3 separate regions of the Homo sapiens genome follow, and regions 1 and 3 are each linked to region 2. The links come from fine-mapping of genetic effects on gene expression. A gene starts in region 2. Each other region holds a variant in brackets. All regions are shown on one strand. Distances are from middle to middle.

The links. PIP is the estimated chance that this variant, and not a neighbour inherited with it, causes the effect.
Region 1: its variant is the best candidate, but not a certain one, in a credible set for the expression of RGMB in whole blood (TOPMed, PIP 0.66).
Region 3: its variant is the best candidate, but not a certain one, in a credible set for the expression of RGMB in blood mononuclear cells (TOPMed, PIP 0.58).

Annotation. Positions count from the first base shown.
Region 1 is chr5:98,539,962-98,547,698 of GRCh38, reverse strand. No RefSeq gene overlaps it. Among named protein-coding and RNA genes, the nearest start is that of RGMB-AS1, 230 kb to the left of the region's middle. The variant G/T (reference allele first, on the strand shown) is at 4,255.
Region 2 is chr5:98,769,018-98,776,754 of GRCh38, reverse strand. RGMB (repulsive guidance molecule BMP co-receptor b) reads right to left here and starts at 3,092. Exons shown (of 3, transcript NM_001366508.1): 1 at 2,549-3,092. The coding sequence starts at 2,684. It overlaps RGMB-AS1 (RGMB antisense RNA 1), which reads left to right and starts at 3,671. Exons shown (of 2, transcript NR_033932.1): 1 at 3,671-4,133; 2 at 5,571-7,137. RefSeq lists enhancers at 1,856-1,975, 2,231-2,730, 3,466-3,515, 5,894-6,394 and a silencer at 2,616-3,245.
Region 3 is chr5:98,491,328-98,499,064 of GRCh38, reverse strand. No RefSeq gene overlaps it. Among named protein-coding and RNA genes, the nearest start is that of RGMB-AS1, 280 kb to the left of the region's middle. The variant C/G (reference allele first, on the strand shown) is at 4,058.

The DNA.
Region 1 (7,737 bases), 230 kb after region 2:
GTCATAGTCGTTCTCCGTCCAGCTTTGTTCCGTTGCTGGTGAGGAACTGCATTCTTTTGGAGGAGGAGAGGTGCTCTGCTTTTTAGAGTTTCCAGTTTTTCTGTTCTGTTTTTTCCCCATCTTTGTGGTTTTGTCTACTTTTGGTCTTTGATGATGGTGATGTACAGATGGGTTTTTGGTGTGGATGTCCTTTCTGTTTGTTAATTTTCCTTCTAACAGACAGGACCCTCAGCTGCAGGTCTGTTGGAGTACCCTGCCGTGTGAGGTGTCAGTGTGCCCCTGCTGCAGGGTGCCTCCCAGTTAGGCTGCTCGGGGGTTAGGGGTCAGGGGTCAGGGACCCAGTTGAGGAGGCAGTCTGCCCATTCTCAGATCTCCAGCTGTGTACTGGGAGAACCACTGCTCTCTTCAAAACTGTCAGACAGGGACATTTAAGTCTGCAGAGGTTACTGCTGTCTTTTTGTTTGTCTGTGCCCTGCCCCCAGAGGTGGAGCCTACAGAGGCAGGCAGGCCTCCTTGAGCTGTGTTGGGCTCCACCCAGTTCGAGCTTCCTGGCTGCTTTGTTTACCTATGCAAGCTTGGGCAATGGCGGGCGCCCCTCCCCCAGCCTCGCTGCAGCCTTGCAGTTTGATCTCAGACTGCTGTGCTAGCAATCAGTGAGACTCCGTGGGCGTAGGACCCTCCGAGCCCGGTGCAGGATATAATCTCGTGGTGCGCCGTTTTTTAAGTCCATCGGAAAAGCGCAGTATTTGGGTGGGAGTGACCCGATTTTCCAGGTACCGTCCGTCACCCCTTTCTTTGACTAGGAAAGGGAACTCCCTGACCCCTTGCGCTTCCCGAGTGAGGCAATGCCTCACCCTGCTTCGGCTCGTGCACGGTGCACGCACCCACTGACCTGCGCCCACTGTCTGGCACTCCCTAGTGAGATGAACCCAGTACCTCAGATGGAAATGCAGAAATCACCCATCTTCTGCGTCGCTCATGCTGGGAGCTGTAGACCGGAGCTGTTCCTATTCGGCCATCTTGGCTCCTCCTCTGACTATATGCTTCTTATATTTGAAAAACCATAAATATAAGGGACAGATTAACTTAAAAATAAAATAAAGGAAATACATGTACTTTGCAGTCATTGACAACAATGGAGTAGCTTTATTAATATAAGATAAACATTAATAGAAATGCATTTTTACAGATGAAATGGGACATTTACTATTGGCAAAAGGACCAAATAAGTTGAAAAGCATAAGGCTCTAAATCTCTATATGGTCAACATCATAGCACACACTGATAGAAATAAAGGGAAAAACAGAAAAATCCACAATTATATTAAGAGACTAAAGCAACTCTCTAAATACTTAAGACAAGCAAAAATAAAATCAATAAAGTTATAAAAAACCTGAAAAACCAATGAGCAAAATTGACTTTTTTGACATACATAGAAAACTGTATCAATAAGAACAGAAGAAAATTCCTTTTCAAACAAAAATATTACATTTACAAAAGAGTCTGAGGCAGGAGAATGGTGTGAACCCGGGAGGTGGAGCTTGCACTCCAGCTTGGGGGACAGAGTGAGACTCTGTCTCAAAAAAACCAAAAAGTTGACCACTTGACCATATGGTGAGTCAAAGCAAATATCAACAAATTTCAAAATACTGAAAGAATTAGAAATATGTAATTTTATTTTGGTGGAAATAACCTAGATATCAGTACAAAAAAATAAACTAGAAAATCCCAAACTGCTTGAAATTTAAGCCACATACTAATAAATAAACAAGAACTCAAAAAAGAAATGGTGGAAAGTAGGAGATATTTTAAGGTAAGTAATAACGAAGGTGCAACATTTTACAACAAATTATAATTCCATGAAAGAATGCTGATAAATCTCACAAGCATTATGATGAAAGAAGGCAGACACATACAAAAGTACACCTTGTTATTCCATTTATATAAAGATAAAACTTCATAAACAGGCTCAACTAACCTCTGACGTTAGAATTCAGAATGATTCTTTCCTGGAAAGAGGGTAGTGGGGGTGACTGGAAGAAGTTATGTGGTGGCTACTGGTGTACTAGTAACATTATCTCTCTTGATTTAGGTGCAGGATGTGCTTCTTTTGTAAAAATTTCGTCTATACATTTATAATTTGTGCATCTTAAAAACGTGTGTTTTACTTCAATTAAAAGTTTGCTTTAAAAAAAGCACAATCAACATCAAGGCTGTTAATGTAGTGTCATTGTATGCATTCTTATATTTAAATATCATCAATGTTTTTGGTTAGGTTTGAAGGAAAGGAGCTAAAAATGCCACAGCCAGTAGACGTTAGTCCTCAGATTAAAGAAATAATTGTTTCAATTGCTTCCCTAAATAGAGGCATATAATTCTGGATCCTCCCTCAAAAGCAGTTATTCGGGTTTTTTTTCTTCTTTTTTTGTACGGATAACCTCTGAAATATACCTTCATTGTCAAATAGAACAGATGCAAGTGTATATACTGAATTAGCATGATTTTCACTGAGACACAAATGTGAAAAACTCTTTTTGTTTCTATCACAAAACATTTAAAAATGTATTTCCTTAAACTTATACAAAGGAGATCTAAACAACTGATGAGAGAAACAATGTTACTATATCGAATTTAAGACTTGTTGATTACATAAAACTGACCATAAAGTAGAATACTGTTGTCATACTTCCAGCAAATATCTCACAATTGACTTTTACTGTCCTGTTATTTGCAGTGACATGGAAGGAACTAGAGGTCATTATGTTAAGTGAAATAAGCCAGGCACAGAAAGACTAATATTGCACATTCTCACACCTATGTGGGAGCTAAAGTAGGTAATTTCATGGAGGTGGAGGGTAAAATGCTGGCTACCAGAGGCTGGGAAAAGTGTGTGGGGGGTAGGCTGGGGGGGTATGAAGAGAAGTTGGTTAATGGGTACAAACATACAGTTAGATAGAAAGAGTAAGTTCTAATGTTTGATCGCACAGTAGGGTGACTACAGTTGTATATTTCAAAATAGTTGGAAAAGAAGCTCTGGAATAATCCAAGCACAAACAAATAATAATTGTTTGAGGTGATGGCTATTTCAGTTACCCTTATTTCATCAGTTTATGCATGTAGCAAAATATCACATGATCCCCACAAATATGTAGAATTATTATGTATCAATAAAATGAGTAATCTGTAAAAAATTAACTTTTACTTGAGATTAACAATATATCCTTTTTGGTTAGTTTTTTTCTAGCTTTATTGACATATAATTGACAAAAATTATATGTACTTAATGTATATAACATAATATTTTGATATACATACATTGTGAAATGATTGCCACATTCAAGCTAATTTACATGTCTATGACTTCACATAATTACCATTTGTGTACGTGTGTGTGGTGAGAACCTTTAAGATTGACTCTCAGAAAATTTCAAGTATACAATATAGTATTATTAACTGTATTCACCATCAGTACAGTATTGTTAAATATACTCAACTACCATTCTACTCTGTGTCATAGTTCTAGGTTTTTAGATTCCATACATAAGAGAGATTATGCAGCACTTGTCTTTTGTGTCTGGCTTATTTCACCTAGCATAATGTTATCCAAATTAATCCATGTTTGAAAAAATGACAGGATTATTCCTTTTTTTAAGGCTGAATGATATGTCATTGCATTCATATACCACATTTTTTTTAAATCCATTGATTTGTTGATAGACATTTAGGATAAATCTATATCTTGGTTATTGTCAACAATGCTGTAATAAACATGGGAGTGCAGATGTCTCTTCAAGATACTGATTTTGTTTCTTTTGGGCATATACCCAGAAGTGGAATTGCTGGATCATGGGTAGTTCTATTTTTAAGTTTTTGAGAAACCTCCCAACCACTTTTCATAATGGCTATACAAATTTACCTTACCACCAACAAAGTAAAAGCATTACCTCTTCTCCACATCCTCAACAATACTTAACATGTTTTGTCTTTTTGATAATAACCGTTCTAACAGGTTTGAGGTGATATCCTTTTGTGGTTTTCATTTTCGTTTCTCTGATAATTAGTGGTGTTGAGCAGTTTTTCATATACCTTCTGGCCATTAGGATGTCTTCTTTTGATAAATGTCTATTCAAGTCTTTTGCCTTTTCTAAAATTAGTTTATTTCTTTTCTGACTTTTGCGTTGTTTGATTTCCTAACGTATTTTTGTGTCTTCTTTTCAGAAATATCTATTCAGGTCTTTTGCTCATTTTAAAATA[G/T]ATTTTTTTTCATTTCCAGCTTTTATTTTAAGTTCAGGGATACATGTGAAGGATGTAGAGATTTGTTACATAGGTAAACGTGCACTATGGTGGTTTGCTGCACAGATCATCCCATTACCCAGGAATTAAGCCCAGCATCCATTAGCTATTCTTCTTAATGCTCTCCCTCCTCCCACACCCTACACTCTGACAGGCCCCAGGATGTATTGTTCTCCCCTCATTTGCCCATATGTTCTCATCTTTCTTCTTCCATTTATGAGTGAGAACACATAGTATTTGGTTTTCTTTTCCTGCATTAGTTTGCTAAGGATAATGGCCTCCAGCTCTATCCATGTCCCTGCAAAGGACATTATCTTGTTCCTTTTTATGTTTGCATAGTATACCAATGTGAATATGTACCACATTTTCTTTACCCAGTCTAACATCGATGGGCATTTAGGTTGATTCCATGTCTTTTTTATAGTAAACAGTGCTGCAATGAACATACACATGCATGTATCTTTATAATATAAGAATTTATATTCCTTTGGGTATATATCCAGTAATGGAATTCCTGGGCCAAATGGTATTTCTGTTTTTAGGTCTTTAAGGAATCACCAAACTGTCTTGCACAAGGGTTGAACTAATTTACAACCCACCAACAGTGTATAAGTGTTCATTTTTCTCCACAACATCACCAACATCTGTTATTTTTTGACTTTTTATTCATTGCCATTCTGACTGTTGTTAGATGGTATCTCATTGTAGTTTTAATTTGCATTTCTCTAATGATCAGTGATGCTGAGCTTTTTTTTATATGTCTTTTGGCTCTGTGTATGTCTTCTTTTGAGAAGTGTCTGTTCATGTCTTTTGCCCACTTTTTAATGGGGTTGTTTGTTTTTTTTCCTTGTGAATTTCTTTTTATTCAATTTCCATGTAGTTGTATATTTTTGAGTGAATTTCTTAATCTTAAGTTCTAATTTGATTGTGCTGTGGTCTGAGAGGCTGTTTGTTATTTCAGTTCTTTTGCATTTCCTGAGGAGTGTTTTACTTCCCATTATGTTATCAATTTTAGTGTAGGTGCCATGTGATGATTAGAAGAATGTACATTCTGTTGTTTTTGGGTAGAGAGTTCTGTAGATATCTATCAGGTCCACTTGATGAAGGGCTGGATTTAGGTCCTGAATATCTTTGTTAATTTTCTTTCTTGATGAACTGTCTAATATTGTCAGTGTGGTGTTAAAATTTCTCACTATCATTGTGTGGGTGTCTAAGTCTCTTTGAAGATCTCTAAGAATTTGCTTTATAAATCTGGGTGCTCTTGTATTGAGTGCATATATATTTGGGATAGTTAGCTTTTCTTGTTGAATCAAACCCTTTACCATTATGTAATGCCCTTCTTTGTCTTTTTTGATCTTTGTTGGTTTAAAGTTTGTTTTGTCAGAAAGTAGGATGAGAACCCCTGCTTTTTTCTGTTTTCAATTTGCTTGGTAAATTTTCCTCCATCCCTTTATTTTGAGTCTATGTATGCCTTTGCACGTGAAATTGGTGTCTTGAAGACAGCATATCAATGAGTGTTAGTTCTTTATCCAGCTTGCCATTTAATTGGGGGCATTTAGCCCATTTACATTAAAGGTTAGTATTGTCATGTGATAATTTGATCCTGTCATCATGATGCTAGCTGGTTATTTTGCAGGCTTGTTGATTTACTTCCTTCATAGTGTCATTAGTCTTTGCTCTTTAGTGTGTTTTTGCAGTGGCTGGTAACAGTTTTTCCTTTCCATATTTAGTGCTTTCTTCAAGAGCTTTTGCAAGGCAGGCATGGTCGTGATGAATTCCCTCAGCATTTGCTTGTCTGAAAGGAATCTTATTTTTCCTTCACTTGTAAAGCCTAGTTTGGCTGGATATGAAACTGGGTTGGAAATTCTTTTCTTAAAGAATGTTGAATATTGGCTCTCTATCTCTTCTGGCTTATAGGGTTTCTGCTGAGAGGTCTGATGTTAGTCCAATGGCCTTTCTCTCTGGCTGACCTTAACATTTTTTCTTTCATTTTGACCTTGGAGAATCTGATGATTATGTGTCCTGGGGATAATTTTCTCATGCAGTATCTTACTGGAGTTTTCTGGATTTCCTGAGTTTGAATGTTGGCCTGTCTTGCTAGATTGGGGAAGCTCTCCTGGATGATATCCTGAAGTATGTTTTCCCAGTTGGTTTCCTTCTCCTGTCTCTTTCAGGTACCCCAATCAGTCATAAATTTGGTGTCTTTACATAATCCCATATTTCTCAGAGGTTTTGTTCATTCTTTTTCATTCTTTTTTCTCTATTCTTGCCTGCCTGTCTTATTTCAGAAAAATAGTCTTCCAGGTCTGAGATTCTTTCCTCCACCCTGTCTAGTCTGCTATTAATACTTGTGATTGCATTGTGAAGTTCTTGTAGTGTGTTTTTCAGCTCTATCAGGTTGGCCTTGTTCCTCTCTAAAATGACTATTTTGTCTGTCAGCTCCTGACTTCTTTTATCATGATTCTTAGCTCCTTTGCATTGGGTGACAACATGTTCCTTTAGCTGAGTGAAGTTTGTTTTTATCCATATTCTGAAGCTTACTTCTTTCATTTCAGCCATCTCAGCCTCGGCCCAGGCTTGAGCCCTTGCTGGAGTGTTGCAGTCATTTGGTGGAAAAGGGGAACTCTGGCTTTTTGAGTTTTCAGTGTTTTTCTGTTGATTTTTTTTCCTCATCTTTGTGGGCTTATCTGCCTTCAATCTTTGAGGGTGCTGACCTTTGGATGGGGTTTTTGTGAGTTTTTTGTTTTTGTTGTTTTCTGTTTTTCTTTTAACAGTTCCGCATGAATACATACAATTACTTGCCCATTAAAATAATTAATTTTTTAATTTAAAACGTTCTTATAAATTAGAAGGTTAAAAAAGAGCATATGCTTAATAAGGTATTGTTGACCTTTGCTGTTCCAGCATCTCAGTCAGTCTGGCCTGTGGGCCTTGGCGAGCCCAAACTGATCAGGGGCTAAAAGGATCCCCAACAGAGCACAGCTGCTCTACCAAAAGCCAGGGGTCTTGCTATGTTACCGAGGCTGGTCTTGAACTCCTGGCCTCAGGAACACAGCTGAGATCACAAATGAGAGCCACTGCCCCACAAGATTGACATTTTAGTTTCCACATATGAGTGAGATCATGTGAGATTTGTCTGACTAATATATTCCTAAGCAGGGCTTCTTAGACTGTAATAATTACATCCACATTTACTTGGTGATGCCAAATAGTGAGCTGTATCACTTAATGTAGCTGTAATAACTTCATCACTCTTTATCTAGTGAAATGACTATTTTATTTGATATCCCCTATTCTGTATTAAACCAATATGTGTCAATTAATTAATTTAATTTGTGATGATGTTTTTGTGCCATGCTGTATTTGGTGCTGAAGATAAAGTAAGAAATGACATAGACACAGCTCTATTCCTCATAAAAGTCACAATCTAGTCTGGGAGATACT
Region 2 (7,737 bases):
CTCAAATCAAACAGATCTCCCGGGGTTCTTTTGCTTTGGCTAAGGCTTCCAACAGCCTTCTGCTACAGAGATGATGGGAGCGAAGAGGGCTAAATAGAAAGTGCGATTGGGTCAGCATTTTCAGCTGCCTTGTGGGCTTCTATATAATGACTAATTTGTAGCATACACCCAGAAATATCCAGGCTTCATGAATTTATAACGACAACGCACACTTTGCCTGTTATAGGCGGTAAAGTAAGCCTCCTGTCAAAATGCCAAGACAATGCGGAGCAGAAACAATCTCAAGGATGTAGCCAAGAAGGCCATGAAGTGTATGAGTAAGCAAGTAACTCCCATATTGGATCTCTATTCAGGAATTGCAGAGGTTTGCTTAAAAAAAATAAAATAAAATAAAGCAACTAAAGGTACTCTTTTCATACTCTTTTCATTCCCCAAGGGCAGAATTAAAACTCTGCAGCTACAGATTTCTCTATTTTTGGGTCAGATTATCTGTGATCAGTGTGACAGTATTTTCACACCAGTTACTGAACATGCTAAAGCATTTGTGGGTCTAGAGCTTTCATTTCATCATTTTTGAATGAATCAGACATAAAGACCTCACCATTCAAGACAGTTTCTTTAACACCAGGACTACACGTGTGAATCTGCAGCACAATCACCAGTTTATAATAAAAGAAATGAGGTATTCTGAAGCTGAATTAAGTGAAATGTGGAGCCATATGGGGTGCTGAGGCAGATGATAAGGATCCAGGCATAAAACATATAGTAGTCCATCTGCAAAGAGCACTGGCACTCTTGCTGGGTTCCCTTATCTGAGAAACAACCCGGGCATTTAAATAGCACCACTCTTCAAAGAAATCTCTCAAAAGGAGCGTTCTTTTCTTTAACAGGATTAATCGCTTCACTCCAACAAGTTGTCCATAGAAATCGCTTACCACATTGTTGGGCTGAATCTAATGGTGACTTAAATGAGGACACATGAAGATACTGGGAGCTTCACATTCCAAATTCTTGAACGAAGACACCCTACTTTTCTAAACCTTTAAGCCAACTTAGTATGCCTTTCACGGGCTAGCAAAGAAACCTTCAGGGACCACATTCCAATTCTGTCACAGGATCCTATGGCAACTATGGGAAACAATATCCAAGCAGCCAAGGGGGACACAATCCCACCTAGCACAATTTCCATTTCATGAAACTTACATTTTGGTATTATGGACACATATTTTTCGCACAAACACTCCTGAATATATCTTTTAACATGTCAAGAAAAATTTTCCACGTAACTACATGCAGATTGACACTATTTTCTAAGGTTCTTAGGTTACTAATTGAAAGCCGTAATCATCCTAAAACTTTCTATTACACTTTTTTATTAAGCCGTCTTTTCCCTAATTGTCGGTGTTAAAAAGCAGCTATTACATCATAATGCAAAGCTACGCAAAGTAAATTAAGTCTCCTCAGATGTCACATTTTCCCCCCCATTACTTAAAAGACCTCCCTGATTTTTAGCATGGCGGGTATGGTTTAATAAGTAAAAATTACTCCGCACAGTTGGGTGGCATCGAAGTTCAGGATTCTCCAGACCAGAACGTTGTGAAGTGTCTCATATATACAGGACAAAAAAGGTCTGGAAGGAAAAGAAACTTATCTAATGCTGTTTGTTCTCAAGACTAAAGGAAAATGACCCTTTCAACCTTAGCATTAAAAAAAATTCTTTGTCTAGGCAAATTCCTAGAAAAAAATAGTGTGAAGAGCGTCCTGGATTTTCATGAAACGATTTTTTAAAAAGAAAAATAGGTATCACATGGTAGAAGGCTCATTTGCAGGCTTACTTCCCTTGGAACATACGCCTCAAGGCTGGGGAAGCGCCGACCTCCAGAAGGCAGCATGGTTATCTGTCAACCCCTCACGGAGCCCGAAGACACCCGGCTAGTCACAAAACACGAGCTTTTCCCGGGAGGCTGATCGCTGAACAAACGCAGCTTTTGCCAAAACGAAAGAAATCCCTGCTCAAAAAAGTTGACGTTACTTCGAGATTAACTCCCAGGTTTGCAAAATCTGGTAAAAATCTTTCCATCTGGTGTACTTCCTTCGCCTCGCCGCCACCCCCAACTCCAGAAAAGCAGCACAAGGCTCCTTGTCTCCCTCCGAGGCGGCTGCGACGGCGGAAACCTGATCCGAGCCTGACTTTCAGTAAACACCAGCGCAGAGAGCAATAAAGCATCCGGAACATTTGTCTCGGGCGCGCGGCCCCCGCCCGCTAAATGTTTGATAAGCGGCTGTCGGAGGGGAGATTTGTCAGCGGTCCGAGCCGAAGGCGGGGAGGGTGGAGAGAAGGCTCGTCTCTGCGCCCGGCGGCCGCCCGGTGGGTGGCTGCGTTACTGTGGCCCGGAGCCCGACAGAGGTGCGTGTCAGGGGCTCGGGAGGCCTTTCCCGTTGCGCCACGCCGCCCTTCCGCCCCGGCGAGCGCCTTCGAGACCTGGGGCTATTTGGGAACAAAGCCCTAGGCCCCGGGGCTGGCTCCCCTCGCGCGCTCCCGTCCTACCTGCGTGGAGCAGCCCGAGGCTGAACAGCAGCAGCAGCAGCAGCTCCAGCGGCGGGGGGCAGAGCCCGGGGCTGCGGCGCTGCTCAACCTCGGCGGCGGCAGCGGCGGCGCTGGAAGGTGCTGCTCTCAAGCCCATGCCCGTCCATGCAGGTCTCGTGGGCTCCGGCGAGGGCGGCGGCGCGGGCGCCGTGGCGGGTCTGGGCCCGTGGCTGCGGCATGGGCCGGGGGGCGCGCTTCGCTTCCTCTTCTTCCTTCTTCAGGCCCGTGTAGCAGATGGGGCGCCACCACCGCCGCAGCAAGCAGCGCGCAGCCGGCGCAGCCAGTCCGCGGCGGCAGCAGCGGGGCGCAGGGGCATCGTGGCGGCCGGAGGCGGCAGGCAGGGAAAGGGGCGGAAGAGAAGACACAAAGACCGTGAGCGACTGCTGAGACGAGTCCCGAGCGCGCCGGCACCCCGGCCCCAGCCAGCGTGGGCTCGGCGGGCGTGGACCTCCAAGAGGCTGGCCCAGCCCTAGCGACCACCCACCGGCGGCCCGGATATCTCTGCGCGGCAGCCCCCGCGGTCGATCAATCTCAGTCCCGCACTGCCGTCCCGCCCCGCCCTGTGCCCGCCAATCCACGACGCCATAATCCCCCGCCGTGTCCCTCCCTTCCTCCCCATTGGTTGTGACCGCACGTCAGCCCGACTCAGCCTGCCAATCGCAGGACCCAGAGGGCCCTCTCCCCCGCCCGCTCAGTGTAATTCGAGTTCCCTGTCCATCGACTCCAAGTCCTCTCTCCTGCGCCGCATGCTGCCTCGCGCTCCCTTTCCTTCCCCCTCTACCCCCTTCCGCGATTTACTGTTTCCTCGCGCCCAACAGAAATGGGCGACCGCAAGTCTTACTCTCGCCGGCGTTACAAAGGTACCGGCCTTTGACCTCTCCTTGAATTAATGTGATCCGATTCATCTTCCCTCCAAGTTTTTTTTTTAATTTAATTACCCCTCCCTGCCCTGGCCCTGCCAGCTTCAGCTCCACCTCCTTGGAGGAAGCAGGCGCTTTTACAGAGCGCCGCGCGGCAGGTCCCCTTTCAGCCAATCACATCTGCGGAACCGCGTTCCGAGTCGTTTGAGGGTGTCTGGTAAAGCAAGCTCGGGGCGGTGTTGGAAATCTGAATGTCACCCGCGGTCCGGAGCAGATAGGATGGGCTGGGAAGGTACCCGCGAACTGCCGCCGGAATTCGCTGGCAGCTGTGCGAGGCTCAGGTGTTCTAGTTTGACATTTCCCTTCCTGAAAGCGGCAAGGAGAGGTCTAAGAGTGGGCAAACTTCAACGTTCGGTTACAGTGTAATTAATGAGAGTGGTGGGTTTTTATGCAGTGTAATTATGCCACGATTTGTTGTTGCTCAGTGGCTTTTTCACAAATTTCTACAGATTATTTAAATTTTCCACAAATTTCTACGGATTAATTCAATGGCAGCTCACTTTCTCCTTTTATGATCGGATGGGTCCGAAAGTGAGGAAAAAGACAATTGTCTACAAAGAAAGAGGCTGCCAAGTGGAGACAGAAAAGCAGTTATGAGACTGATGATAGATTCCAATTTGTTATCGGTAGGTGTGAAGTGGTATCTAATCTCAAGAATGACCTCAAGGCTGAGAGACACTTGATACCGCCCTCGCCTTTGCCTTTCCCCAAACAGCACAGGGTTGCCATTTAAAATCCACTAACATCCAAATCGTAGTTGGCAACTGTACCCGCTATGTTACTCAGAATCTCTAATTAGGAATTTCTTATCAACCACGGACATGCTGATATTCCACACATGTTTAAATGAGCTAATCAATGGACTAGGATAATTGAGGGGCAAACCTTCAGTCTCACCAGCTCACTTATTAGACACATTTTGAATTGCCCAAACCACTAGGTCCCTAATGAAGGATGCCTATCTGTTTTTACTGTAACTTTTCATTACTTACTTGTTACATACTATGATGACTTAAGGGGTAAACACACCTTTCACTATCCACAATATAATCCAAGCCTGTGTATATCCATAATACGCTTAATAATAGCTTCACAGTTGCCTGGAGAAATGACTTTTGGGGAGGAAGTTATATGACATTTTTAGATAATGCTGCGGACTAAGTATTATTAGAGCAAAAATTTACTATCTTGCAATTACTTCATATAATTAGATACAGTTCATGACATACTAAGAAGCATCTTAAAAAAGTAATCAAACATAATACTGATTTTCAAAGTATTTGGCTAACAAAGACTACATTTTTTTCTCTTAACCCAAGATTTAATTCGACCCCTATAAAAGCAGCATCTCACTTTATTGATCATACTTCAAAGCATATACTCAATAGTTAAGGATCAATAATTTCTGTTTGGTTTGGGTCTTTCCACTCGTGACTTTCTATGATTTTTTACTCCCCTCCCCCTATATCCTGTTCCATAAGTACACGGGTGCTCTAGATTTTCCTATCAATAGAGGGCGTCCTCGAGTCATTGCAAATCCTGGTGTCGTTAAACGGAACTGTTCTTCAGAGGAAAAACTTCATCTCTATAAGGTGCTTTATTGCTCCTCTGTTGTAAAATTTGACAAGCTCGAGATTTATAAGCCTAACAATTCACTTTTTATTGCTGCATAAGTGTTCAGCCGCTAGAGGAAAATGCTAATTTTCACAAGTAAACCGCAAGGTGGTTCCTATTTTCAAGACATAGGTCAGTTGACACACTCGCGGGTAAATTCGTACTGTTCACAAGATCAGGAATTGGCTTGGAAAGCAAGAGCGTAGTGAATAGTCGCTTATACCGCAGCCACTCCTCAAGCCCGTGAGCTGCAAGTTACAAACGACTTTATATTGTACAAAGAAAAATCGGGGAGGGAGCTAGAACACAAACAAAAAAATCGGTGACTTATAAAAGTTTTATGTTTTAATCAGAAAAAAAATCATGAAGTGGCTGATGACTTGTGTAATTCACACATCCACCCTGTTTCTTGCCACTGGTACTCTTTCTCCCTTTCTCTTTGTTTTCAGAAAGGAAGGAGGAGACCTGAACAGTACATCCGGAGAATCCAGCAAAGCATACTACGGCATGAACGTGCAAGTGGACAGAATTAAAACACATGCCAGAAACACTAATGGATTCTAAACAAGATGCAGTTTCATTTCCTGAGCCTATACGTGATGTTTTTAACTGTTCTCCAGTTAATATGTCTCCATTTCCAGAAATCTAACAGGAGAATCTCTGACTGCTTAACAGATCACCTAAGCTTGCGATTTGTGCAATCCTTTCTAGAGTAAGGGCTCCCCGGCTGCTCCCCGGCCACTGTGTACCCAAAGCAGCGGCTGAAATAGCCCGGAGTCCAACAGCTCAGCGTCAAGCAGCTCGTGGTTTGTACTTACATCATTTTTTTTTTCAGAGCAAGAGTGAAAGTTTATTAAAAAGCGTTAGAACAGTAAGGAAAGGAAAGGAGAGAAAATAAGGAAAGTACAACTTGGAAGAGGGCCAAGCGGGCGACTTGAGAAATCAAGTGCCTGTACTTACATCATTCTTAACCCTTTCGCTCCTGGAGGGGGCTCAGCGGGATCAGGGGGCCCCTGAACTTCGGAACACGCAGGACCTGGGTGTGAGAGAAGAGTCCCAAAGCTTGGCGTGAGCAATGCACTCGCGGAGGGAGAGAGCCCGGGGCTTGCGGGGGGCTCATCACCCGCTCGTAGACAACGGGCCCCCGCAATCCCTGCGGGCTCCGCCGCTGCTCTCACCGCTCAAAACGGCAGGTGCAAAAAGCATTTGGGAGCCGCTTGCCAGCGCGCGGAGGTAATGCGCTTCCTGTCCATTTATCTCAGGAAACCAGTGCAGCCTTCCCTTCGAAACAAAATTAACCTCTCATTAGCCAGCCACTCGCTCCCAAGAAGGCCTTAAAAGCTTTACCAGCTCGCTAATGTATTTAGGCTTTTCTTCCAGGCAAACGCAGCCGCCGGTCTTGACTGCCATCGCCCAAGGGGTTCCTCTGGGCTCTCCCGCGAGCCAACAGCCGACCTCTCTCCAGCCTAGTCTGGGAAACTCCAGCCAACCCAGGATCCCATTTTGTAGTCCCGGGCAGACCCGAAACCCCTGAAAGAACTCCACTCCAGAAGACGCCAGAACAAGTTCCCACGAATTTCATGGGCGCCCTTCACATGAAAACCTCAGCTCCCCTATCCTCAAGGAACGGGGAAGGGCGCCGGGGAGGGACTTCGGTGGCCAGCTGTCCCTGGGTCGTGGGCGCTGTTTGCTCTGCGGAGCGCCAGCCCTGCACACAGCGGGTGCGGGAAGCGTTGATGGGAGGCTGGAGGGCGGGGTGAGCGTAAACTAGGATCTAGCCGGTTCCAGGCGTGGAGAATCAAATGTGGTCCTAGATCTGTAAGTTGCGAAAAGGGGCTTTTGGGAGCGTCAGAGCTTTCTCACTCCGGTCCCCCGCCGCCTTGAGGCTGGCAGATTTATACCCCACAGGTGGATGGAGACCTAAACAAAACAGTCCCGGCCGCTGCCTGCCGCTCGCCCCCCACGTCCCCCGGGCCCACCGCAAACTTCAACAAAATAAACAACTCACCACAGGCATTCCCTTGTCTGCAGCGCGACGCTTGCCAGCTGGGAAAATAAGCCGCAAGCCACGCGGCCGAGGCGCGGAGGGAAGGCAGCGCGGCGCCCGCCCCTCTCCCCCAGGTGGGGGGCAGCGCGACTCGGGGCGGGAGGGAGGCTCCGCCTCGGGGGCCGCTCTCCCAGTTCTCCGACTCCAGAATGAGCTCTGGGAGAGGAGCTGCGCCCTTCCAGCTAGCCCGATTTCTCCGCCATCTAGGGGAGAGGGCGGGGAGCCAAATCCCTCAGCCCCCCGCACCCCAGCAGCTTCCTCCAGGCAGCTTTCTCCCCAGTCAGCCTCAAATAGAGGTGAACAGAGACCCTCCTCTCCCCCCGGCAACCCCTATATCGCCACACTGCCCCCTGCCGGCGCTATCCGGCTCATTCCGGCACTGCGGACGGCTGGGGGCGTGGGGGCGTAGGGGCGCCGCAGACCCCCGCGTCCAGGTCCTGGATCAGTTCTCTCTTCGCCTTCCCCCCACCACACTCAATCTTGCACAAAGACGCCTTTCACGCCGCCAGCGCCACCCTCCGCGCCGCCCTCCGGGCCGGCGGCGCTGCCTTCGCCCACCCGCGGCACCA
Region 3 (7,737 bases), 280 kb after region 2:
AGAACTTAGGCTGTGTCTCCAGATATCAAAAGTTTGATCGAGTTTCATATTGGTTTTACAGCCCTGATGGACTTTTTGTCAAGTTGATTGTGTTATATAGACAGAGTGATTTTGTTTTTATTTTCTTAGAGAGTTGTGTGTCATATCTAATCATATGTCTTATCTCACATAGGTTAGTAGTGATTTTTATGGTAAGAAAAGCTTTCTTTTTCAACATCATAAACATTTATGGAATTCATAATAATATAAACTTTTGTATTTCTCCTTTTCCACTTATAATTTTTTAATGCTTCTATTCCCTGCAAGAGCGATGCTTCATGAGGGTAGAAATGATACTAGTCTTCAACATGGAATTCTCATTATTACCACAATGACTTGTACACAGTAGATGTTAAATATCTTTTGAATGAGTTGATAAATATGTATATTAAGCTTCTAAGCTCCTCTTTGGCACGGTGCTACTTCATCCGTCTATTCTTATTTCCATTAGACCCTACCACACACCACCCTACACTCTGGCCTGCATATAAGCATCAACCATCTTTGTTCTTTGAGTTACTTGCTTTCCTTCCTCAATATGTTTCATCTCTCTGCCTAATATTAAAAGCTAACTTTTATGACTAAGTCCTTTGCATTTGTTATCCCATTTTCTAAAACAAAACAAAAAATAAAACAATCAGGTAGGTACTATAATTAACACCATTTACAAATGAATAAGGCTTAGAAAGGTAAGCTATCTTACTTCTGTGAGCCCCATAGCTCCCCAGCCACACAGCTGCTGATGTCTGCTTCATTATAGAACCATTGCTCCTAACCACCTTTTGTACATTCTTCAAGCCTCAGTTCAAACACTACTTCCTCCATAAAGCTTTCTTTTATTACGTTGATCTTCACTAATCTCTACTTTGTCCCAAACACCTGTTATACTTAAAGTCAGCACCACATTGCTCACTCTCGATTGTTCTGTATGAGTTCATGTGTATTAATTTTATCTGTACCATTAGATCTTACAGTCCTGAATAGAAATTGAGCCCTATTTATTTTGTATTATTCCATTATGTCTAGCAAAGTAGAGATGATTAAGGAAAACTTCCTAGTTAATGGATCAAAAAAGAATAAAGTAATGTTAGAATTGCAAAATTTATCCCAGAATTTTCATCTAGAATTTTTCCACAAGGCTAGAGTCTGACAAAGACCTAACTATTTCTTTTGATATCTTTCATTTAAAAAAAGTTTAGTTTACTTCCTGCCACTCAGAAACTTAAAACCATATCTTCAGATTTGGGATTGTTAGAAATAACCTTTTGAAGATGAGATGAAAACTGTTATTTTCAGTCATTAAAAATGTTTTAAGAACAAAGGAATCATGTGACAACTTGTGACTAATGCAATCAGAGAAGCCGGAGATTGGGATGTTTATTTTTACACATTGGGAAGGAAAAAGTAAGGATCAGCCTCTAAGTTTGACACCTCAAATGAGTTCAGTGGTTTTGCATCATATCACATGGACATAGTGCCTCTCTTCATGCCTCCACAGAAGTAGGCAGAGACACAGAAGAAGGCCCCAGGCCAGAGCTGTGAGTACAAACTGGATCTAAGCCTTAATAACTGAATCCAACCACATAAACAACTCAGAACAAGTGAAGAAGTGCCAAACTTGTCCTTGTGAGTTTCCCTGTAAATTAAAAATAAACTGGAACAATTATGTATTCAGATTATGGAAAAGTAATGAAATTGAAACTGATTTAAGTAAATGATTTATGATTCCCAAATACCTAAAACTACTACAAAATTAAGTTTATCTTGTGCAAAAGGAAAAAACAAAATACATGGAGCCCTTGGTTAGGTTTGATATTCTTCAAAGACATTACAAGATATTCCAAAATGTCAACTTGAATCATGGATTCAAACTTAGACTAAGAACAAACAATAGTCATTACCTAAGTCTCTTTTGTGGCCTTTGTAAAACCAACTCACTATTTAAGTTCATTTCCAATGCAAATATGTCACCAGCATTTAGTGGCAGGGTTGCTGTGTGTGTTCACACACAGTGGGGCAAGTGAGAATCAAGAAATTCACAAATGGGCCATCTGGGTTCCATGCAGAATCTCCTCTTCTCCCATTATGTTAAAGCGGCACTACTTCCTCCTACTGATCAGGTTCAGTTACCCTTGCTATGTTGTGGGGATTCAATGTTTGTGGATCAGGCATTGTGTCAGCGAGGCCTGGACAGCGAGGATCTGTGGGCAGAAAAAACAAATTCATATGTCCAGAGAGGGATTTTCTTTTCTTTTTTTTTAACGTTTATTTTAGGTTCAGGGGTACATGTGCAGGTTTGTTATATAGGTAAATTGAATGTCACAGGGGTTTGGTGCACCCAGGTAATAAGTGTAGTGTCCAATAGGTAGTTTTTGATCCTTTCCCTCCTCCCGCCTCTGCCCTCAAGTAGGCCCTGGTGTCTGCTGTTGTCTTTTCTGTGTCCATTTATACTCAATGTTTAGCTCTCACTCATAAGTGAGGAAATGTGGTATTTGATTTTCTGTTCCTGTGTTAGTTCACTTAAGGTAACGGCTGCTAGCTCCAACTGTGTTGTTGCAAAGGACATGACCTCACTTTTTTCTGCTGCATAGTATTCCATGGTGTATATGTACCACATTAAAAATTTTTTTTTCCATAAGTTATTAGGGTACAGGTGGTATTTGGTTACATAAGTAAGTTCTTTAGTGGTAATTTTGGTGCATTCATAACCCAAGCAGTATACACTGCACCATATTTGTAGTCTTTTATCCCTCATCCCCCTCCCACTCTTCCCCCCAAGTCCCCAAAGTCCATTTTATCATTCTTATGCCTTTGCGTCCTCATAGCTTAGCTCCCACATATCAGTGAGAACATATGATGTTTGATTTTCCATTCCTGAGTTACTTCACTTAGAATAATAGTCTCCAATCTCATCCAGGTCATTGCAAATGCTGTTAATTCTTTTTATGACTGTTAATTCTTTTTATTATCTGTTAATTCCTTTTTATGACTGTGTAGTATTCATATATATATATTATGTATATATAATATATATATACACCACAGTTTCTTTATCCACTTGTTGATTGATGGGCATTTGTGTTGGTTCCATGATTTTTCAATTGTGAATTAATGCTGCTATAAACATGTGTGTGCAAGTGTCTTGGAAACAACCCAAATGCCCATCAATGATAGACTGGATAAAGAAAATGTGGCTCATATACACCATGGAATACTATGCAGCCATAAGAAAGAATGATATCATGTCCTTCGCAGGGACATAGATGAAGCTGGAAGCCATCATTCTCAGCAAACTAACACAGATGATAATGTGATTTTTAATTCTGTTTATGTGGTGTATCACATTTACTGACTTGTGTATGTTAAACCATCCGTGCATCCTTGATATGAAACCCTCTTGATCATGTTGGGTTATCTTTTTGATACGTTGTTGGATTCAGTTAGCTAGTATTTTATTAAGGATTTTAGCATTTATGTTTATCAAAAATATCTGTCTGTAGTTTTCTTTTTTGGTTATGTCCTTTCCTGGTTTTGGTATTAGGGTGACGCTGACTTCATAGAATGAATTAGGGAGGGTTCCTTTTTTATCTTGTGGAATAGTACAAAAGGATTGGTACCAATTCTTCTTTGAATGTCTGGCAGAATTCTGCTGTGAATCTGTCTGGTCCTGGATTTTTTTGTTGTTGTTAATTTTTAAATTGCCATCTCAGTCTCACTGCTTGTTTTTGGTCTGTTCAGGTTATCTAATTCTTCCTGATTTAAGTTAGGAGGGTTGTATTTTTTTTAGGAATTTATCTATCTCTTCTAGGTTTTCTAGTTTATGTGTGTAAACGTGTTCATAGTAAACTTGAATAATCTTTTGTATTTCAGTGGTGTCAGTTGTAATATCTCCTGTTTTGTTTCTTAGTGAGTTTATTTGGATTTTCTCTCTTCTTTTCTTGCTTAATCTTGCTAATGGTCTATCAGTTTTATTTATCTTTTCAAAGAACCAGATTTTTTTTTCATTTATCTTTTGCAT[C/G]TTTTTTGTTTCAATTTCATTTAGTTCTGCTCTGATCTTGGTTATTTCCTTTCTTCTGCTGGGTTTGGGTTTGGTTTGTTCTTGTTTCTCTAGTTCCTTGAGGTGTGATGTTCACGTGTCAGTTTGTGCTCTTTCAGTCTTTTTGATGTAGGCATTAAGGGCTATGAACTTTCCTCTTAGCACTGCCTCTGCTGTATCCCAGAGGTTTTGATAGGTTGTGTCATTATTGTCTTTCAGTTCAAAGAATTTTTTAATTTCCATCTTGATTTCATTTTTTACTCACTGCTCATTCAGGAGCATGTTATTTAATTTCCATGAATTTGAATAATTTTGAAGGTTCCTTTTGGAGTAGATTTCCAGTTTTCTTCCACTGTGGTCTAAGAGAGTGCTTGATATAGTTTCAATTTTCTTAAATTCATTGAGGCTCATTTTAGGGCCTATCATATGGTCTCTGTTGTAGAAAGTTCCATGCACCGTTGAATAGAATGTGTATCCTGTGGCTGTTGGATGAAATGTTCTGTATATATCTGTTAAGTCCATTTGTTCTAAGTTATAGTTTAAATCCATTGTTTCTTTGCTGACTTGCTGTCTTGATGACCTGTCTAGTGCTGTCAATGGAGTACTGAAGTCCCCAACTAATATTGTGTTGCTATCTCGTTTCTTAGGTCTGTTAGTAATTGTTTATAAATTTGGGAGCTCCAGTGTTAGAGGCATATATGTTTAGGATTGTGATATATTCCTGTTGGACAAGGCCTTTTACCACTATATAATGTCCCTCTTTGTCTCTTTCAACTGCTATTGCTTTAAAGTTTGTTTTGTCTGATACAAGAATAGCTACCCTTGCTTGTTTTTGGTGTCCATTTGCATAAAATGTCTTATTCCACCCCTTTACTTTAAGTTTATGTGAGTCCTTATGTGTTAGGTGAGTCTCCTAAAGACAGCAGATGGTTGGTGAGTTCTTGCCTATTCTGTGGTTCTGTATCTTTTAAATGGAGCATTTAGGCCATTTACATTCCCATGTTAGTAATGAAATGTGAGGTACTGCTGCATTCATCATGCTTTTTGTTGCTGGTGTAATTTGGTTTTTTGTTTTTGCTTTTTAACTTGTATTTTTGTTTTGTAGGTCCTGTGTGATTCATGCTTTAAAGAGGTTCCGTTTCTATGTGTTTCCAGGATTTGTTTCAAGATTTAGAGCTCCTTTTAGTAGTTCCTGTAGTGGTGGCTTGGTAATGGTGAATTCTCTCAGCATTTGTTCGAAAAAGACTGTATGTTTCCTTCATATATGATGCTTAGTTTTGCTGGATACAAAATTCTTGGCTGAAAATAGTTTTGTTTGAGGAGGCTAAAGATAGGGCCCCAATCTCTTCTAGCTTGTAGGATTTCAGCTGAGAAATCTGCTGTTAATCTGATAGGTTTTTCTTTATAGGTTACCTGGTGCTTCTGTCTCACAGCTCTTAAAATTCTTTCCTTTGTCTTAATTTTGGATAACCTGATGACAATGTGCCTAGGTGAAGATCTTTTTGCAATTAATTTCCCAGGTGTTCTTTGTGCTTCTAGTATTTGGATGTCTAGGTCTCTAGCAAGGCTGGGGAAGTTTTCCTTGATTATTCCCCCAAATATATTTTCCAAGCTTTTAGAATTCTCTCCCTCCTCAGGAACACCAATTATTCTTAGGTTTGGTCATTTAATATAATCCTAGACTTCTTGGAATCTTTGTTCATACTTTCTTATTCTTTTTTCTTTGTCTTTGTTGGATTGGGTTAATTCAAAGACCTTGTCTTTCTGGTCTGAATTTCTTTCTTCTACTTGTTCAATTCTATTGCTGAGACTTTCCAGAGCATTTCACATTTCTAAAAGTGTGTCTAAAGTAAAAGTATGTCTAAAGTTTCCTGAATTTTTGATTTTTTTTAAATTTTATTATTATTATACTTTAAGTTTTAGGGTACATGTGCACAATGTGCAGGTTTGTTACATATGTATACATGTGCCATGTTGGTGTGCGGCACCCATTAACTTGTCATTTAGCATTAGGTGTATCTCCTAATGCTATCCCTCCCCCCTTCCCCCGACCCCACAACAGTCCCCTGTGTGTGATGTTCCCCTTCCTGTGTCCATGTGCTCTCATTGTTCAATTCCCACCTGTGAGTGAGAACATACGGTGTTTGGTTTTTTGTCCTTGAGCTACCTCTTTCATTAAATATTTTTCCCTTCACTTCTTGTATCATTTTTTGGATTTCTTTGCATTGGGCTTTGCCTTTCTTTGGTTCCTCCCTGATTCGCTTAATAACTAACCTGAATTCTTTTTCAGAAAAGTCAGGGACTTCTTGGTTTGGATCCATTGCTGGTGAACTAGTGTAATTTTTTTGGGGTGTTGAAGAGCCTCATTTTGCCATACTACCAGGTTTGGTTTTCTGGTTCTTTCTCATTTGGGTAGGCTGTCAGAGGGAAGGTCTAGGGCTGAAGGCTGTTGTTCAGATTCTTTTGTCCCATGTGGTGTTTCCTTAATGTAGTACTCTGCACCTTTTCCTGTGGGTGTGGCTTCCTGTGAGTCAAACTGTAGTGACTGTTGTCTCTCTTCTGGGTCTAGCCAGCTGGTGAGTCTACACAGTTCTGGGCTGGTACTGGGGGTTGTCTGCACAGAGTCCTGTAATGTGAACCATCTATGGGCCTCTCAGCCGTGGATACTTGTGCAGTTTTTTGGGGGGTCTCCCAGGTCCTGCAGGAGCAGTTGGCTTCCTTCAGAGTGTCTGTGGGTCCTCTCCTGTACCACAATTTCTTTATCCAGTCTGTCATTGATGGGCATTTAGGTTGATTCCATGTCTTTGGTATTGTGAATCATGCCACGATGAACATTCATGTGCATGTGTCCTTATGGTAGAATAATTAGAATTCTTTGGGGTATATAACCAGTAATGGGATTGCTGGGTCAAATGGTAATTCTGTTTTAAGTCCTTTGAGAAATTGCCAAAGTGCTTTCCACAATAGCTAAACTAATTTACATTCCCACATGAAATGTATAAGCATTCCCTTTTTTTCTGCAACTTTGACACCATCTGTTAATTTTTGACTTTTTAGTAATAGTCATTCGGACAGGTGTGGGATGGCATCTCATTGTGGTTTTGATTTGCCTTTCTCTAATAATTAGTGATGTTGAGCATCTTACATTTTCTCTGTAAGGACAAACTGTCAATTTTTCCAAGATGAAAGAGATCCAGTTTAGTCGAGTTGCCACCAAGTAACTGGCTAATCTCCTGCAGAAATAGTGCTATATGGGGACTCAGCACTCATGGCAGGCTGGACATTCAGCATGACAGTAGGTAAATAGGCCTGGACAGGTGAGAGTCCATGTTAGATCCCTGTGCAGACTCCAATACTGCCACCTCAGTGCCTTTGTTCATATGCCCATCATGCCATTTCTTAGCGGCTGATAAGTAAGACTGGCTAAAGTCGACTGGCTAAAGTCAACTGGCTACGTCATTTTGTCTACTTGATTCTTCAGTGCTTTTCCCATGATGGATGCTTTCTAGTAGATGTTAACATGTTATACAAAAAGTTTCATAATTTGAGCCCACTCGCATATGTTTATGCACATGCCTTACTAGAGATCTCCTCATCTCTGATCTTTCAGTCCTTTTATTTCTAGGCTATTGTTGATCAGCTGACCGGGCCATTGACTACTA